Regions from separate parts of the Homo sapiens genome. Here region 1 is linked to region 2. Evidence: fine-mapped QTL for protein levels in blood plasma. A gene starts in region 2. The other region holds a variant in brackets. All regions are shown on one strand. Distances are between the middles of the regions.

Region 1 (8,309 bases), 110 kb before region 2:
CAGAGCCCCTGTGTGAATCTCTGCCCCATCCTTCCTCTGGGGGCTGCCCTCAGAAGGTCCCCATAGACAGTGTCTCAAATAACTCAACGTCTTTGCTAAGCACAGAGTGACAGGGAGGCGGCAGGGCAGACAGGAGGCCCGGGACTGGAGAGAGGCGCCTGGCTGTGAACCCACCTCCGCCCTCAGCCATGCAGCAGCCCGCAGGGCTGTTCTGAGTTAAAGATCACGCCCATGGAGGTATTGTGTGCCATACAAACTGGGAGGCCTGGTTACTGTGTATACCAATTTTATCTTACAGGCTCGCAACATTGGGTTTCTGAATCTGTTTTTTTTTTTTTTTAAAGGGAGATTAGTGCCAACTTTGGACCAAACTCTTGTCCATCCCTGGGTGTGCCCGTCTCTGTCGGGGGAGGACAGACACTAGCCCAGCCCAATCAGGCCCTGGCCAAGGTGAATTCACTCAGCAAACGTTCAAGCAGGTGGTGCATGTCTACTGGGCCTCTGGAGATGCTTTTGTTTTTACTCCCACATCCCCTCTGAAGGCCAGTGTTGTCGCGCCCATTTAATACATGAGACACGCAGCTGAGGTTCAGAGAACTTAGGTGACTCGCCAGTCACACGGCAGGTAATGGGACTCCTGGGCTTGAGAAGAGGCCTCTCCAAGGCCTACGCTGGGGCTCTCCTCTGTATCCTGAATTCTGGCCATTCGGTAGTGGCGACGCCAACCCAGGAGGCCCTCTGAGTTGGAGTGTTGAAGGAGGCGCAAATGCATGACCCTTGTAGAAAAGCAACAAACACACCCAAACAATAAAATAGCTCTTTGTTTATTCACTTTGATTTGGATCATTGGAAATATTAAACAATAAATAAAACAGAGCGGGGGCTGAGGAAAGCAGGATCTTGCTGAAGTCATTCGAATGCATCCCAACCAGTGCTCAGCTGCGTAACGACATGGAGAGAGGCAGGGGGGAATAGAAAGCAAATTTAAAAACACCAACACCCAAACACACAAGACTGCACACAAGAAAAAGTGCTCAAGAAACTTTGGCTTTGAAGGGAATTCAGTGAAGGGAAGCGATTGTGCAGGAGGAAGGGAAGAAACCCACGATCACCCTAAGGGGCGGGGGGCTGGAGGGCGAGGCCCTGAGACAGGCTAGGGTTAAAGCTGACGTCCCACAGCTCAGGACGTACAACCGATGGCAGTTTTGTACTAGGAAGAAGCTGAGTGATGAGGCTGGGTGATGGGATCGCTTGACGGGCTGGGAGGGAGGACAGGAGGTGTAAAGGTGGCTCACCTTCCCCTAGGAAATTCAGTGCTCTTTTGGTAAGAAAAAATAGTCGGTAATGCCCTGATCCTGACAAGCTGTGAGATGCTGTCTTGCCTGTCTCTGCCTTTTCTTCTAAGTTTTCCTCCTTTTCTTTGCACAGGTGTCAGGTAGCACCCCAGGGGTGCAGGAGCTGGTGTTTTCATGACAAACAAAAATGGGGAGGTTGACTCTATCTCAAAACTAGCTAGCCCAGTCCACAGGGCAGGATAATCCTGATGGCGTGTAGCCACATTTGCTGCAAACCAGATGTCTGCGATGGATATAATGATACCCCCGGGGCTCTTCTCAGGGGTGAGGACAGGTGCTGGTTCCTGATGGTGCATGGCTGGTGTCCAGTCATCTTTAGCTGGGCAGTGGCCCCTCGAGGCTCGGGCTTCCCTGCACAAGGTATTTTTGATCCTTGCCAGCGGAGGGAGAGAGAGTTATCTTGGTTTCCTTTCACTTGTTTTCGGGCTGCTTCAAAGCAAACATCCCAGTTCCAAATGTTCTTTGTGGTTTGAATCCTGGCAGAGGCCAGGGTCACATCCAAGTGGGACTGGCCTCTAGCACCACCTTCTGGCCACAGCAGAGAATGGGATTCCATCAAAGCCTCTCAACCAGCCGTTTCCCTAAAGAATCACCCAGATCTTAACTGCCCTCTCCACCTTCTTTTTTTTTTTCCCTCCTATTTTACATTCTATTTTCTCATATCCAGCTTTTCTCTCTAAGCCTAACCAAATGCTTTGGTGAATGATGCTTGGAAAAGCTGGAGTTTTAAAAGGCATTCATCCATTTATGAACTTTCTTCCAGCCCAGGATCCCTGCAGAGAACCAGAGGTTACAAATCTGCCCTCCTTTCTCCCCTAAAAGGTGGCTGAGGGGAGGAGAGGTGCATGTAGCTCCAGCTATAGCAAATCAGTGCCCTGACTCACTGGGGAGACCCAGGGGGTTGGGATGTTGCTGACACCTCATGGGCCACCTCATCAGCCCATCTTTGTAGCTTCAGGTTCAGCTCTGGGTGCTGCAGGCAGGGACCCCTCTGCTCCCTGCCTGAATGCAGGGCCAGTCTCCAAGGAACTCTGTCTGCAGAGTAGAAAGAGCTGTGGGCTGGGAATCAGGGGCCTGAGGGAGCCCCTGCCACTGCCTGCCCAGAACCAGTGCTCCTCATTCTCCTGCTGACAGCATGCATGTGCCTTTTGGCTAACACACACTCTTGTCTAATTCCCAGCCACCTTCACCCCAGGGATGAGTTCCAGTTGGTTTAAGCCAGACTGGTGCATTTAATTCTGGCTGCAACAACTGGATTCTGTTAAGTGCCCATTGCTAAGCCAATGAGCTATCTGCTGGGCTGTGGGAAAGAGAAATGCAGTCTCCTGCACGGGAGGGTGTGAGAAGGCCACCCAGGCAGCCTGCAGCTAGAGCTCGGCGCTGAGAGAGCACAGGAGAGTCAGACACCTCCATTCTGGTTACACTTTTTCCAGATGCTGAATGGAGACTCGCTGGGAAAGCCCGCCTCCAGACAATTTCAACATAGCGCCGGTAACACCCTAGTTTTGCTCAAACTCTGACTTGTGCTATCTGTCCCAGACAGTTCACGACTGCCCGTCACTTCCCTCCTTCACACTGCACCAGGAAAAGGCCACACCTCCCTACACAGCAGCAGCCTTTTAGGAAATGTGCTCTACAGGAAAAGTGGTTTTTCTGATTAAACATCAGGAACTAGAGTCAACAATCGCTGTCCTCTCCCGTGCCTGTCACGCTCCACTCCCCACCCAGCTGCAATGTGGCCTTGATTTTCTCATCAGTAAAATGGGAAAGCTGGATTTGGAGGCTGGAAGAGATCTCACAGCTTGACCACCCTAGTAGGAGGGAGGGAGACCAGACGGAGGCCAGGCAACCGACCCAGGCAGCATCTGGCTCAGACGCAGACACATCTTCATGTTGAGGGACCTATTCTTACACAGCAAAACCCAGAGAAGTCGACTGCTCAGCCTGAGCCTGTCATCCCTATATAGACTCAGCTTTTAGGAGAAGAGGGAGAGTTGAGGAGATAGCATCGCTCTCTGTATCAGTGTCTGATGATCTGGAGTCTGCCCCTGGGGTCACTCAGTCACTCAACAAACATTTGTTGAGCTCTTAACGTCATATATGGGTGTGAGCTCTGCCCTTCGAGGCTGTATGTTCTGAATGATGACTCAGTGATTTACCAGCCTTTCTCAGAAAAAAGAAAAGTCTTTAAAGTTTTGGAGGATTTTAAAGCTGAAACAGGTTTTCGGTTTGTTTAACACATTCCCCATTCTGAACCTTTGAGAATCTAATAAAAGCTATGGTCCTTTCTCCAGAAAAATGCTCATATGCAGAGATTCAGGGAAAAAACCAAACTTGGCACGCAACTTCCGGGGACTCTTGTGAATGGCCTGAAGCCACCTGTGACCCATGACTGATGTCCCCAAGTTCCTCCCTCCCCGTGTGCAGAGGGGGCTCCCCCGAGCCTGGGAGCACAGGCCCCATGCCTCCGTCACACTCCACCAGGAAAAAGTCACGCCTCCTCAAAGCAGCAGCGACCTTTTCAGGGATATTTTCAACAAGAAAGTGGTTTTTCTGCTTAAACATTAGTAACTGGAGCCAACAATCACCGTCCCCCACATTCCTGTCACTCTCCACTCCACACCCAGCAGCAATAAGGTTTCACGGAGTTTTGGAGACTCCTAGCCTGAGAATAAATCCAAGTCCACAATGAGGAAGAAGGAAGGTTGGGTTGGGACGGGAGGATGCTGAGGACATTCCACAAACCATCCAAGCCCTAGATACCCCCAATATCCCACGTCCGAGGACTCCTACAAACCTCCCTTAAGCACCCCCACCTAATTTCCCAGCTACTGGGTGAGGCAAGCTTCATTAAAACACCAGGACCACCAACAGAGCCAGGGTGCAAACAATGTCAGTTGAATAAAAAAAAGAAATCAATAAATAATCAGGAAGGCTAATGAGGAAAAGAGAGTAGCTGGGGAGTAAGAAGATGAGGTATGTGGCAGT[T/C]ACCATTCCTGGGATGTCCTTGACCCAGACCCCCAGTGACAGCCCCAAGATGGCCAGCAGGGACTTGACCCTGAGCTCAGGCCCTTGGGGAAAATGCTGCTGGCAGCCTCCTGTGTGGCTTTGGAGGTTACGGGCACCATATTGAACAGTCTGAGAATGAGAATGTACGTTCCATTCTGACGCACTGCTGGGTGGTGTTGAGTATCCTCAGAGCTTCGTTGCAATTCAGGTGCTGGCTCAGGAAACCAGAAAAGATGTTCCCAGCTACGGAGCAAGCAGGGCCGCTGGTGGGGGTCCCTTTTCCCAAGTAAGGGCTTTTGTTTCATTTCAGCCAATGCATGCTTTTCTTTCCCAAATACAAAGGCACATGGAAGTGGTCAGATCCGCTCTCGCCACGATTAGAACCATGAGACTGACTACTCAAAGGAACAACTGCTTGGGAAGAGGCATCTGCAGGAGTCAGAAACACGGTGCCAAGTTTGGGGTTTTTTTTCTTTTCTTTTTTTTTTTTTTTCAGAGACAGGGTCTCACTCTGTTGCCCAGGCTGGAGTGCAGTGGTGTGATCACAGCCCACTGCAGCCTCGAACTCCTAGGCACAAGAGATCCTCCCTCCTCAGCCTCCCTAGTAGCTGGGGCTACAAGTGTGTGCCACCGTGCCTGGCTAATTTTTTTAAATCTTTTATTTTTGTAGAGACAGGAGTCTCACTATGTTGCCCAGGCTGGTCTTGAACTCCTGGGCTCAAGTGATCCTCCCGCCTCGGCCTCCCAAAGTGTTCAGATTACAGGTGTGAGCCACGGCACCTGGCCTCAAGTTTCTGTGAAAATCTTTGGGGTAGGAGCCTCTGGTGGCTCATAAATGAGCTTTGGGAAGATGACAGGGTTATCACGCCAAGCAAGAGGCCAGGCTTCGTGCAAAGAAGGGCAGCATCTCGCCCCGAGCGCCAACACCGCCTGGCACGTCTCTGTGCTGGAGGTAATCGCCACTCAAGTCTCTGCCCATCTTCCTGGGAAACTGTCCTGTCTCTCAGAATATAGGCATCTTCCACATTCATTCCCCAAGCTTGCCCCAGGAGCCAAAATGATTTTAGTGTGTGGAGGTTGAACCTTTCCCAGCGTCTCCCCAGCTCTAGGGCAGCAGTGGGGGGACGTTGTCCCCACTCAAGACAGGTTCCAAGACATGCTCTGCCACGCTGGCAGAGCTTAGTGACCTTGCTGAGTAGATGCTGCCAACGGCTGGGTGCAAGAGGCTGTGAGCGGTGCCCAGGCACACACCTGAGGCTGCCCCTCCAAGCTCCGGGATGGAACGGCTCCAGCAAGATGCTGGGGCTGGAAATGCAGAGGTGTGACAGTGCGTCCATCCTCAGCCCTTCACTGCGTCATCTCCCCTTGAAGATCCGGATTTTATTGATGGAGGCCAAGGTGGCCGTCACGTTAGACTCAAAGTCTGCATCGTGCACCCCCGTCTTGCGAAAAGCCCCCGCGGATGGGTTGTTCTCCCAGTAGTGGTGCCAGTTCCCTTTGCTGTCTGCCCCGAAGCCGTACAAGTCCACCTGTGGGAGCAAAGCAAAGATGAGAACCAGACAGCAGGGCTGCTGGTGGCACCTCTGAGAAAGGAAGCCTGTAGGCGTTCCTGGAATCCCACAGGACCATAAACAGCATTTCCAAGGACTCTGACTAACCCTTCATTAAAAACCCTTCTCTACGTTCCTGGAACTCTCAGAGTCTTGGTGAAGCAAATGCAAGTTAAGTAAAACTCAAGTCTAATTCCAGAAGCACCCTGAGAGATTACTGCATCTGGGTGGTCTCAGGGGCCCGGGTCTTACCTCTGCAGCAAGTGCAACCTATTCTCCCAGGATTGAGGAGCTACAGAGGGAAGGAATAGGAAGGAGGGCGTGGAATGGAAGAGAGTGGAAGGAGAGCAGGGCTTTGGGGCCAAGCAAACTGCCCCAAATCCCAGCTCTGCCACTCCGTGGTGCCCTGGGCATGTGAAGTCACTTCTTTGAGCCTCACTTTCCTCATCTGGAAAATGGGTCCAAGAATCATGATTGCAGTGAGGCAGAGGGCAGGGCTGATCCCTTTCTTCTCTGTGGCCAACATTCATCTGGTCCAGGCGCCCTCAGGGCCACTAGACCAGGCCTTTCACATACATGACAAACCCTGTGCATTTATTCTGAGCCCAGCACCCTGCTGGCTGTACTGAAGTTCAGGCAGAGCTTGATCAGATGCCAGCTGGGCAGCTGCAGGGGGAAGCAGCCTTGGAGCTTATAGCTTCTTGGAGTCACTGACTGAGTGGTCCTTGTTGGAAATGGGGCTAAATTCAGGGCTCCCGCAGCACAGAGGAGGGAGGAGCTATGCCCTGAGAGGTCAGAGGAAGCTCTTCAGAGGAGGTGGCATGTGAGTTGGGTCTTGGAAAATGAGTACAAGATGACCAGAAGGAATTGCATGGAGGGGCTTCCAGGGAGAGGACGTGCTATCTGGGCTGCAGCGTGGAAGATAGATTGGAGGGGTGGGGACAAAGAGGGGACGGGGACAGCACCATGCCACATGTGGCTTTCTCAGGAAATGCAACATGGACATGGGCCTGCTCCAGGGCAAGAACGTTAGGGCCAAATCGGTGGGACGATGGGAGAAAGGGCTCTTGAGCAGAACCTCAAGCAAGGGTCTGGGACCAGCTGGCTGGAGGTGGGTGGGGTGGGGAAATGACAGGGGCACCCATGTTTCTACCTGGGAACACCAGGGTGGGGCTGAGCCTGGGGACCTGCCTTGCAATGCCTCTGACCCTTTCTGAGATTCCCACCAGGCACCAGGCAGGGTGGGGCTGGGGCTGGGCTGAATGAGACAAGAAGGGACACGTGAGGGCCCTGCCTGAACCCAACATCAGGGAGGAAGTGGGGGCTGTGTGGCCTGCCCTCCTGCCCCTCTTCCTGGGGTGGCAGCAAACCTCTCAGAGCATAAGTGGAAACCCGAACACAGCCTAGCGGACAGCGAAGGACATGGGAAGGCAAATGCATGCTTCTCGAGATCACGGGTTCTCAACCTCGGTAGACAGTGGAACCCCTGGGTACCTGGCTCCCATTAATTCTGGTAAAATTGGGCCAAGGTGTGGCTTGGGTGCTGGAACTTAGACCCACAGATGATTCTAAGGAGCAAGTGGGATTGAGAACTGTGGCCTTAGACAACTCTCGCTATGAGAATCCGCTTCTGTATCCGGAATCTGCTGCGAGATCCGAGCTTCCACCACCACGGTCCTGGGCACTTACACAGAATGTGCCAGAACTATTGCTCCTGAGAACTTTCTCATAGAGCACTGTTACTCACTAAAACACCCTGGGAGACACATGTTGCAAGTCCTGTCGTAGAGACAGGGAATCCGAGCTTCCGGAAGAGGCAGGCTAGGTCTACCTGCCCTCCCCCTCCCTGGCCTCTCTTGGGAACACAGGACGGTGAGCTTCGAGGCAGCCCTGTGGGCAGGGGGAGGGTGGCATACCTCATCGCAGACATGCATTGAGAAGATGACCGAGAGGATGCCGGTAGATGGGTATCGCCCGTGCCCTTGCAGCCAGTTGTCAAAGACATACTTGATGAAGGCTGGGTGGTAGATCAGGATCTGCGGGGATGGGAAGACACGGCCCTTAGTGAGTTCTGGGGGGCAAAGGACATGGAGCGCCTGTCAGATGTACATACTGTTGTGGCCATGGAGGCACAGCCATGAGCCTAATAGATACGCCTGCACTTGTGGGCTTCCATGCTCGTAGGAAAGATGGACACTCATCCACATCACTAAGAGACAGAGGTGCTGAGCTAATAAGTGCTATGGAGAGCAATGATGCAGAGGAGGGCCCTACAGGACCGTGTGAGGAGGATCACTGAGCTGACACACAGAAAAATCCAAGGAGGCCAGGGAGTGAGATGGGAGGCTGCTCAGGAGAAGGGGGCTCCAGGGAACAGTGTGAGGTGGGACTGGAC
Region 2 (8,271 bases):
CCCAGGACCTAGAAGGACTCCTTCCTGTCAAGCTCACAGACGACTTCATCCCCATAAGAAGGGCTTCCAGATCAGCGACAGCCAATGCTGTGAGCGCCACCAGGGAAGGGGGGCAGTACAGCCCTGATTACAATCAGCAAGAAGGCTGCTCAGAAGGCAGTTTCCGCCTGCTGCTGCAGAGCTTCGAGGAACAGACTCCACACTCCCTAAGAAACCCTCCTCTGCCATCACTTCTAGCAACGCTTCCTGTTTTTCTCTCTCACCCTGGGTGGGGTGCTGTGGCCTCCCAGCCAGGGAGGTAGGCAACAAAGGCCCTGCTCAAGCCCAGGTCCTGGCCTTGTCCAATCAGACTCTAAACAGCAAATGCCGGCCCAGAAAAATGCAGGGAAAGCAAACTTCAGGGTTTGTGGGATTTTGAAAAGGCAAGAGGAGAAGGAGCCCTCTATTCATTCTTTATTTAGCAAAAAGTGTACGATGGAACTTTTTTCCCTAGACCTGAAGTCAAGGTATACACATACACACATGTAGAGTATGAACTACCTATACATACACACATTCACTTAATTATATGTATTATCGCCACTCGCAATTATGCAGAACGTATTTTGGAGAATGTATTATTGGCCTCATTTTGCAGATATAGAAACTGAGACGCCGAGAGGTTAAGTCTGGCGACCAAAGAGAGACAGAGACAGAGAGACGGGAGACTAGAAGAGGCCCCACGCTGTACCCAGATATTGGCAGAGGCTGAGGGGCACGGAGTGGTGAACTCTAGTCAGTCATTTCAGCCAACCATGGGATTTCAGAAAACAGCCGGCAGGGGTCCTAATGTTTGGGGCAGGAAGGGGAGGTGCGGGAAGGCACTGAGGGACCCCCGCACTGGGCGCCCCTTCCCCACCGCAGAGACAAGCGGCAGTTTCCACAGCAGCCGGCAGGGGGCAGTGCACCTTGCCTTTTCGAAGCCTCTGGGCGCTTGGGCAGCGCGGGGTAAAGAAAATCAGGAGGCTCCGCCCGCAGCTTCTACGAACAGGCCAGGAGTAGAGCCCCCGCACGTAGTAGGTGCTCCAGGCACGTCTAGAAGCCTAAAGGGCTTGGTCGATACATTTGAACTCCATTTTAGAGACTGGAAGGGAAGAAGGGGGCGTCCGGGCCCCTGCCAGCACCTTCCACCTTGGGGCCTTGTCAATGAACACTGCGTTAGCACCTACGACGTGCCAGGCGCCCTGGCGACTATTGGAAAACCCGGCTCCCCTCTCACCCCGTTTTCCTCGTTGGCGAGTCGGCCTCGCCTCCTCCTCCCGTCTCTTCCTCTCACCACACACACCCAGCCGCAGAGCGGGGGTGGGCGCTCGCTGTCTCCCTGGAGAACCAGCTCGTCGCAAACTTGCGGGGCTTGGGGACCCGCGAGGGGGAGAAGTCGGGAGAGGCCAGGGGTGCCCGGAAACAATCACGAGAAAGCCGGGCGAATGCCTGATGCAGGGACGCGGCGAGCCAGTCACTGCCCTCAGGGTCACGGCTGACTCCCTCTGCGGGACTCGCCCAGCCCGCGAGACGCAGTGACCTGCCCAACCCCCACCCCCTTGCGCGCTTCTGGGTGCGCACGTGTCCCCTCGCCCAACACACCACCGAGCCCCGCGCATGGTACGGCCGCCGAGGACCCTAGCGTAGGAGGGAGGAGCGAGTCAGGGCTCCAGCTGACGAGCAGAGCCAGACGATCCCCACACGCTTCCTGGGAGACCCGGCTGCAAGGCCAGGCTAATGCGCGCTCCGACGTCTCTGTGCCAAGCCGGGGCGCAAGCTCAACCCCCATCTCAAGTTCAGCCGCGCTTCCTCCCGCAAGGTCACGCTTAAACACTCGCGCAGAGAAAGGAGGAGCGGAAAGTTGCGCCACCGTCCCGATTCCAAACTAACTGTACCCTCACCAGAGCGCCTCGCCCCAGGGTCACCGCTGTCCGTCCCCGTGCGCTCCCAGAAGGGGTGGCCCTGCCCCCACGCAGGTCACACACACGAGAGACACAGGCAAGTTGCTAACTTTTGTCAGATTATTTCTTGGGAGCTGCGACGCCTCACGGGGTTGGGGCGGATTCAGAGTTTCGAGTTGCCACTAACACGACTCCGGCCGTGCTCTCCTTGGCCCACCCGCGTCCCCCACTGTCCGCCACGCCGCGTTCAGCTCTCTTGTCCCGGGTGTCAACTTCACCCCCAGATCCGGAGCAGCGCGCTCTGACGGCGTCCCCGGGGCCGATAGCCACCTCCCGGATCTGCGCCTGCTTGCAGCGGATTGGGGGACTCGATCCGGATACTGTCCCACGGCCGCTCGTCCAGAACACTGGCGGCCTCCGCGGTGTCCCAGCCTGTGACCCCAAATCCGCTCGAGAGCGCCTGAGCCCGGCCACCCAGCGAGGTCTCCTCCCACGGGCGGCCCCAGCGGAGGAGATCCCAGCCCGGCGCCGGGTGCAATGTCACTGGGGCTGCTTTCGGGAACCGCTGCCCGGGACTTGGCGTAGGTTCCCCACAGAGCTCCAGGCAGCTCCTCCAGTGTCGGCCGAAGACCCCTAAGCCCGAACCTCCACCCCGACCTTCTTCCTCTCCCAAAGCCCTGGGTGGTCGCCGCTGCCAAGGAAGGGGTCTCCCTTCGAATGTCTTCCACTAGAATCCCGGGGTCTTCAGTCCCAGCTCCACTGTCACACCCTCCTAGTCCCCTCCCCACCCCTTCAGTTCCCGGGTCCAGACAATCAACCTTCCACTCCGAGAATCCACAGGAAACTGCCCGAGCCCCAACTCAGGCGGACGCAGCCCCCGCGCACCCCGAGCAGGGTTCGCCTCCGCGCGCGCACTCACCACGGCTGGAGACACGCTGGAGTTTCCGGGATTTGGGCATGAAGGGGTTCGGAGGAGAATACAGGGGTGTGGGTGTCCCGGACACTTGCCCCCTTCCCAGCTCACATCGCCTCTTCCTTCTCTCTCCGCTCTTCTTCCTCCTCCTCCTCCCTCCGGTCTAGGGCTCTTTGTCTTTGCAAAGTGTCGAAACTGTCTGGCATAGTGGGCTCCGCCGGCGGAGGCTGGAGCCGAGGAAGCGAGGAGGCGGGATGAGGGTGGGAGAGGGCTCGGGAACACCTTCCCCCGGGTGTAACGGGAGTGAAAGGCGGGGCGACCGAGGAGGGGCCGCCTTCCCTGGCCGGCCGGGGCCGGGTGCCAGGGCGCGCCAGAGCCCAGCCACCGCCTCCCCTGCGCGCGGCCCTCCCCTTCCTCCGCCCAGTGCCCGCCCCTCCCGACTCTGCGCCTCCGTTCGGCCCCGCCCACCCCAACTTGGCTCGGCTTTCCCTTGGCTCCGGGCTTCCTGCAAGCCGAATTTAGCTCTGCCAAGCCACGTGGACCGCAGCGGGCTCGGCAGAGGCCGAGCCTGGGAGACGCCGGAGGCGGCGGCTGCGGCGCGGGGACCTGATCGGCGCCCCGAGAGGAGCTCCCCGCTCTCTGGACGCGGCCCTCAAGCTGGCGGGGCTAAGGAAGAGCGCCCGGGAGGCCCGGGAGCCACTGGGGTCCGTTTCAGCAGGAAGACGGGCACGCACCGAGAGGATGGCAGTGCCCAGAAGAACTCGAGTCGGGGGCACGGTGGGGAGAAGGGGCCGATCCCCTGCTGGCGACCGGGCAGAGCCACCCACTTCCTCTAAGGGCGCGGGACTCGAGGTGGGATTTAGGGAGGGGGAAGGGAGGAGCGTGGGCTGGACGACTCTTGCGGCCAGAACCGCGTTCAGAGCCACAGAGCCGGGCACTGCGGCCGGCCCTGGTCCCGGCCCCGGCCCTGGCCCAGCCCTTGCCCTGGCTCGCCTGCCGCCGCTTTTTCCTTCCAGATGCGGAGGCTGCGGCTGGAGCTTGGGGTTTGCGGATTAGGCTTGCAGTTATTCAGCCCTCCCTCTTTTACAGGGAAGCGGGGGCGGTGGAGACTTCTTTTGCTGAAAGGCAGAGTGCAGCGCTTTGATGCTAAATGCAGTACACAAGTCATGTAAATCTGGTTTTACGGTTCTTAACCCCTTACTGAGACTACCTCTTTCGCAACTTTTCGGAGGAATGTTAGAGGAAAGAGGCACAGTTTGCCTTTGGGGTCATTGCATCCTTCCAGCGCCCCTTGCTCCAGCTGGAGAGAGATCAACCTTTTGCAGTGGAAGGGGAGAGTCCCCCAGCCTTTGTTTCATCAGACGGCTGCTGTAGTACAGGGATTCAGGCCAGGGCCCGCATGGCCGGACTTCTTGGTTCAAATCCTGCACTGCCACTCAACGGATGTGTGAGCTTGGGCTAGTGACTGAACCTCCCAGCCTAGGTGACTCTGTGCCTCGGTGTCCTCATCTGTGAGAACCGACCTAAGAAGTGTCTGTCTGATAAAGCTGTTGTGATGAGTTAGTGAATTCGTACACATAGAACCTTTAGAACTGTCTTTGACATGTAGTAAGTCAGCTGTGTAGATGGTGGGTTTCTCCAGTGTCAGGTCCCTGCCCACAGCAGGAAGATGACCTGTGCTAGAAGATGGGGGCTAGGGTGTTGGGGAAGACTTCAGGGACTTGGGAGAGAAAAGGAGAAATATTCAGAGATGAGAAAAGTAGAAGAAAAACCAGCTTTTAAAAGGGGGAGGAGAGAGAATGAGAAAAATAACTACTAGAAAGGGAAGGAAAAGATGAATAGCCTTTTAGGTACTTCGGGACCTGCTCTGAGACCTCTTGCCTGACGCCCTTGGTTTTTGATAGAATTCTAGAGAAGGGGTGAGCCCTTTTGTCTGCCTGGACACATCCTGTGGGCTTTCCTCTTTCTGAAACTCAGGTCAAGGTGTTCACTGCATCTCCAGATTGCTTGTGTGCATGGGAGGAGGGGGGCAGAGAGTTCTGCTTACATCGGCTACTGTCCCCTCCACCAGCAGCGTCTTCCAGCAAAGAAGAGCTTCTAACATGCACCAGACTTTTAGCTTTGGCTGGGAATATCGTCTGGGCCAATAAAGAGTTTTTGGATGAAATAACAAAAGTGTTGTTTATTGTATGGATCAAATAATGTATGGGAACATATTCGAAAAATAGAAAATGCTATACTCATATAAGACTATGCTACTATATCCTAGTAGATTCTGTGGAAAGAGGATCAGATTTGGCAAGTAAGGAGCCCCAGGTCATCCAGCTGTTGCACTTTGCAGCCAAGAACCAAAAGCAGCTCAGTTTTAGCTGAGTTCTTACTGTATGTATTCCACGTGCAATACTGGCAGTGCAGTAGTTTTGTTTATACCAGCATCACCACAAACATGTGAGTAATGCATTGAGTTGATGTTCTGATCACTAGGCACAGGAGTTTTTCAGCTACATTAATATATTGTGAGACCACTGTCTTACATGCATGTGGTCCATCATTGACCAAAATGTTATCCAATGCATGACTATATATGTGAATAGTGTAGATTGTATGGGTTCTGCCAAACAGTTCTGCTAACGCAAATCCCACCAAGATTCTCAGGGTTGGAGGGAGGCTTCAGGACCATGTCTTGGAAGTTCCCCTGGATGACTCCATAGTGAGATGGAAATTCCTTATTAATTGACATTGTGGTGAAACACACATAAATCACCACCTTATTTGAATAAAACATTGTACATCAGATGCATCTTTAGTTCATCTCTGAAGGGTTAACCTGGGCAAGGCCTTTTCTGAAAGCCCCACTTTCTTTCTGTTAAGTTTCTTCCCAGGTAACAGGGACAGCCTCTCCCTCTCCCTTTTTTTCCAGAGTTTTGACATTCCATGCAAGTAGCTCTCTTAACACCCCCTTTTAGGACCCTTGCCAGGGGCTGTGTGTCAGAAGTGTGTGCATGCATTCCTCTTTGTCACCCTGAGTGTATGTCCCATCACATCCTGCCAGAGAACAAGGATCATAGTCATTACTGGGAGTGTCTTCACAGTGGGTCTCCAGGGAGCGCTGACATTGATTTACTGCATGCTGCCACCTCCTACCTTTTGGAGCACCAGCAAAGCTCTCAGTAATGATGGTTAAGGAAATTGATTTCATCCTTTCCCTACCCCCGTTTCTTGGCACAGCAGAGTGGAAAGATCCTAATGGGTTCTGGTCCCATTTGGGTGATTGTGCAGAAAAGAAAAGGGCTGCACCACTTGTCAGAGATGAGTTCAGAGGTGCTGGGCACAGCACATGGTGTTTTGTGTTTTAGACAGTGTTTTCCTTAGGGCTCTTGGGACTGTGAGGAACTCACTCAAGTTTCTTTAGAAAAAAGAGTTTTAATGTAGAGATGTGCAGACTGAAGCTGAAAACAAGCTGCAAGGAGAGAGAGCCCATCTCTGTGTTTCTGTCTCCCTCCCGACCCCCACCGCTGCCCCCCCTCCCCCTCTCCGCTCTGTTCTCTCTCTGCCCACAGGCTTTCTCTGTTAAATCCTGGGGTCTGTTCTAAAGTTTTCTGCATGTTTATGGCCTCAGCCTTTCTGCATCCTGGCAATTGTGGAAATAATCTTTTCAGCTTCACTTCCCACTGTGGTTCCACCAGGTGTTTTAGTTTTTCCAGGAGAGGAATCTGACTGACAGGCCTCATCTACAGAGTCATGAATCACCAATCCAATACTGGATGGACTGCCCAGGCAGCCTGAGCTCATCCCATGAATGACTGTGCAGAAGGACAGTCCTCCAGGAGATGATGCATTAGAGGGAGTGTAGGAGACATGGTCCTGACTCTGAGAATCTTGGCAGGCATTTGAGTTAGTAAACTATTTGGCAGAACCCAGCCACACTTCTCACATGTACAGTCGTTCACTGAGTAATGACGTTTTGGTCAAAAAAGGAATGCGTATATGAGAGTGGTCCCCTCTGATGACACTGATAAATTCCTGTCACCTAGTGGTGTAGCTGGCATAACATCAACTCCGTGCATTACTCATGTGTTTGTGGCGATGCTGGTATAAACAAACTTACTGCACTACCAGTATGGCACATACAATATGTACAGTATATAATACTTGATAATGATAATAAACAGCTATGTAACAGGCTTATATATTTACTGTACTATACTTTAAATCATTTTAGAGTGTGCTTCTTCTGCTTATAAAACCAAGAGTTTACTGTAAAACAGTATTCTGTGTCATACCGGCAGTAGCCTCATTCATCTCATTTTTTTCGATTGCATCATTTTCTCTTGTGCTTGATTTAATCTCATGCTGTTTTGTTCCTCACGGTCCCTAAGCGTACAGAATCCATGGCTAATGTTGCCAAAGAGAAGCCACATTGAGTGATTGTATTAGTCCATGATCACACTGCTAAGAAAGACATGCCTGAGACTGGGTAGTTTACAAAGGAAAGAGGTTTAATGGACTCACAGTTCAGCATGGCTTGGGAGGCCTCAGGAAACATACAGTCACCACCAAAGGGGAAGTAAACACATCCTTCTTAACAAGGCAGCAGGGCCGGGCGCGGTGGCTCACACCTATAATCCCAGCACTTTGGGAGGCCGAGGCGGGTGGATCAGGAGGTCAGGAGATCGAGACCATCCGGGCTAACACGGTGAAACCCCGTCTCTACTAAAAAATACAAAAAATTAGCTGGGCGCAGTGGCAGGCGCCTGTAGTCCCAGCTATTCGGGAGGCTGAGGCAGGAGAATGGTGTGAACCCGGGAGGCGGAGCTTGCAGTGAGCCGAGATCGCGCCACTGCACTCCAACCTGGGTGACAGAGTGAGACTCCATCTCAAAAAAACAAAAAACAAAAAAAAAAAACAAAAAAAAAAAACAAAAAAAAAAAAACAAGGCAGCAGGAGAGAGAAGAATGAGTGCCCAGTGAAGGGAGAAGCCCCTTATAAAACCATCAGATCTTGTGAGAACTCACTATCATGAGAATAGGATGGAGGAAACTGCCCCCATGATTCAATTATCTCCACCTGGTCCTTCCCACGACACATGGGGATTATGGGAACTACAAGTCAAGATGAGATTTGGGTGGGGACACAACCAAACCATATCAGTGATTGAGCTGGAAATGAAATTAAAAGTGATTAAAGACCACGGAGGTGGAAAATTGGTGATGGTTATTGCTCCCCAGGCAGGTAGGTCGCATTCGATCATAGCTACAATCTTGGGGAAGAAGAACAAAGTGACAGAAGTTGAAACTATCTGCATCATTGGAGGCAATGAGACTATCAACAATTTAAGAAGGGTCTATACCAGATACAGAGAAATTTCTTATGACCCGGATTGAAGACTAGACTGACACACACATGTATTCCACCCAGCCCCACGATGATCCCAGC

What was found. PIP is the posterior inclusion probability: the model's chance that the variant is causal. The UK Biobank Pharma Proteomics Project read protein levels with antibody pairs (Olink). The fine-mapping took linkage between variants from a reference panel, not from the people measured, so its PIPs are less certain.
Region 1: its variant is fine-mapped to the plasma level of the ST3GAL1 protein (UK Biobank, PIP above 0.99).

Annotation. Positions count from the first base shown.
Region 1 is chr8:133,454,045-133,462,353 of GRCh38, forward strand. ST3GAL1 (ST3 beta-galactoside alpha-2,3-sialyltransferase 1) reads right to left here. Exons shown (of 10, transcript NM_173344.3): 9 at 7,831-7,950; 10 at 804-5,893. The coding sequence ends at 5,720. Among named protein-coding and RNA genes, the nearest start is that of ST3GAL1-DT, 110 kb to the right of the region's middle. The variant T/C (reference allele first, on the strand shown) is at 4,344.
Region 2 is chr8:133,568,852-133,577,122 of GRCh38, forward strand. It overlaps ST3GAL1 (ST3 beta-galactoside alpha-2,3-sialyltransferase 1), which reads right to left and starts at 3,036. Exons shown (of 10, transcript NM_173344.3): 1 at 2,842-3,036. It overlaps ST3GAL1-DT (ST3GAL1 divergent transcript), which reads left to right and starts at 1,721. Exons shown (of 2, transcript NR_186509.1): 1 at 1,721-2,019; 2 at 2,207-5,005. RefSeq lists enhancers at 796-865, 823-1,676, 1,036-1,255 and silencers at 3,046-3,535, 3,726-3,785.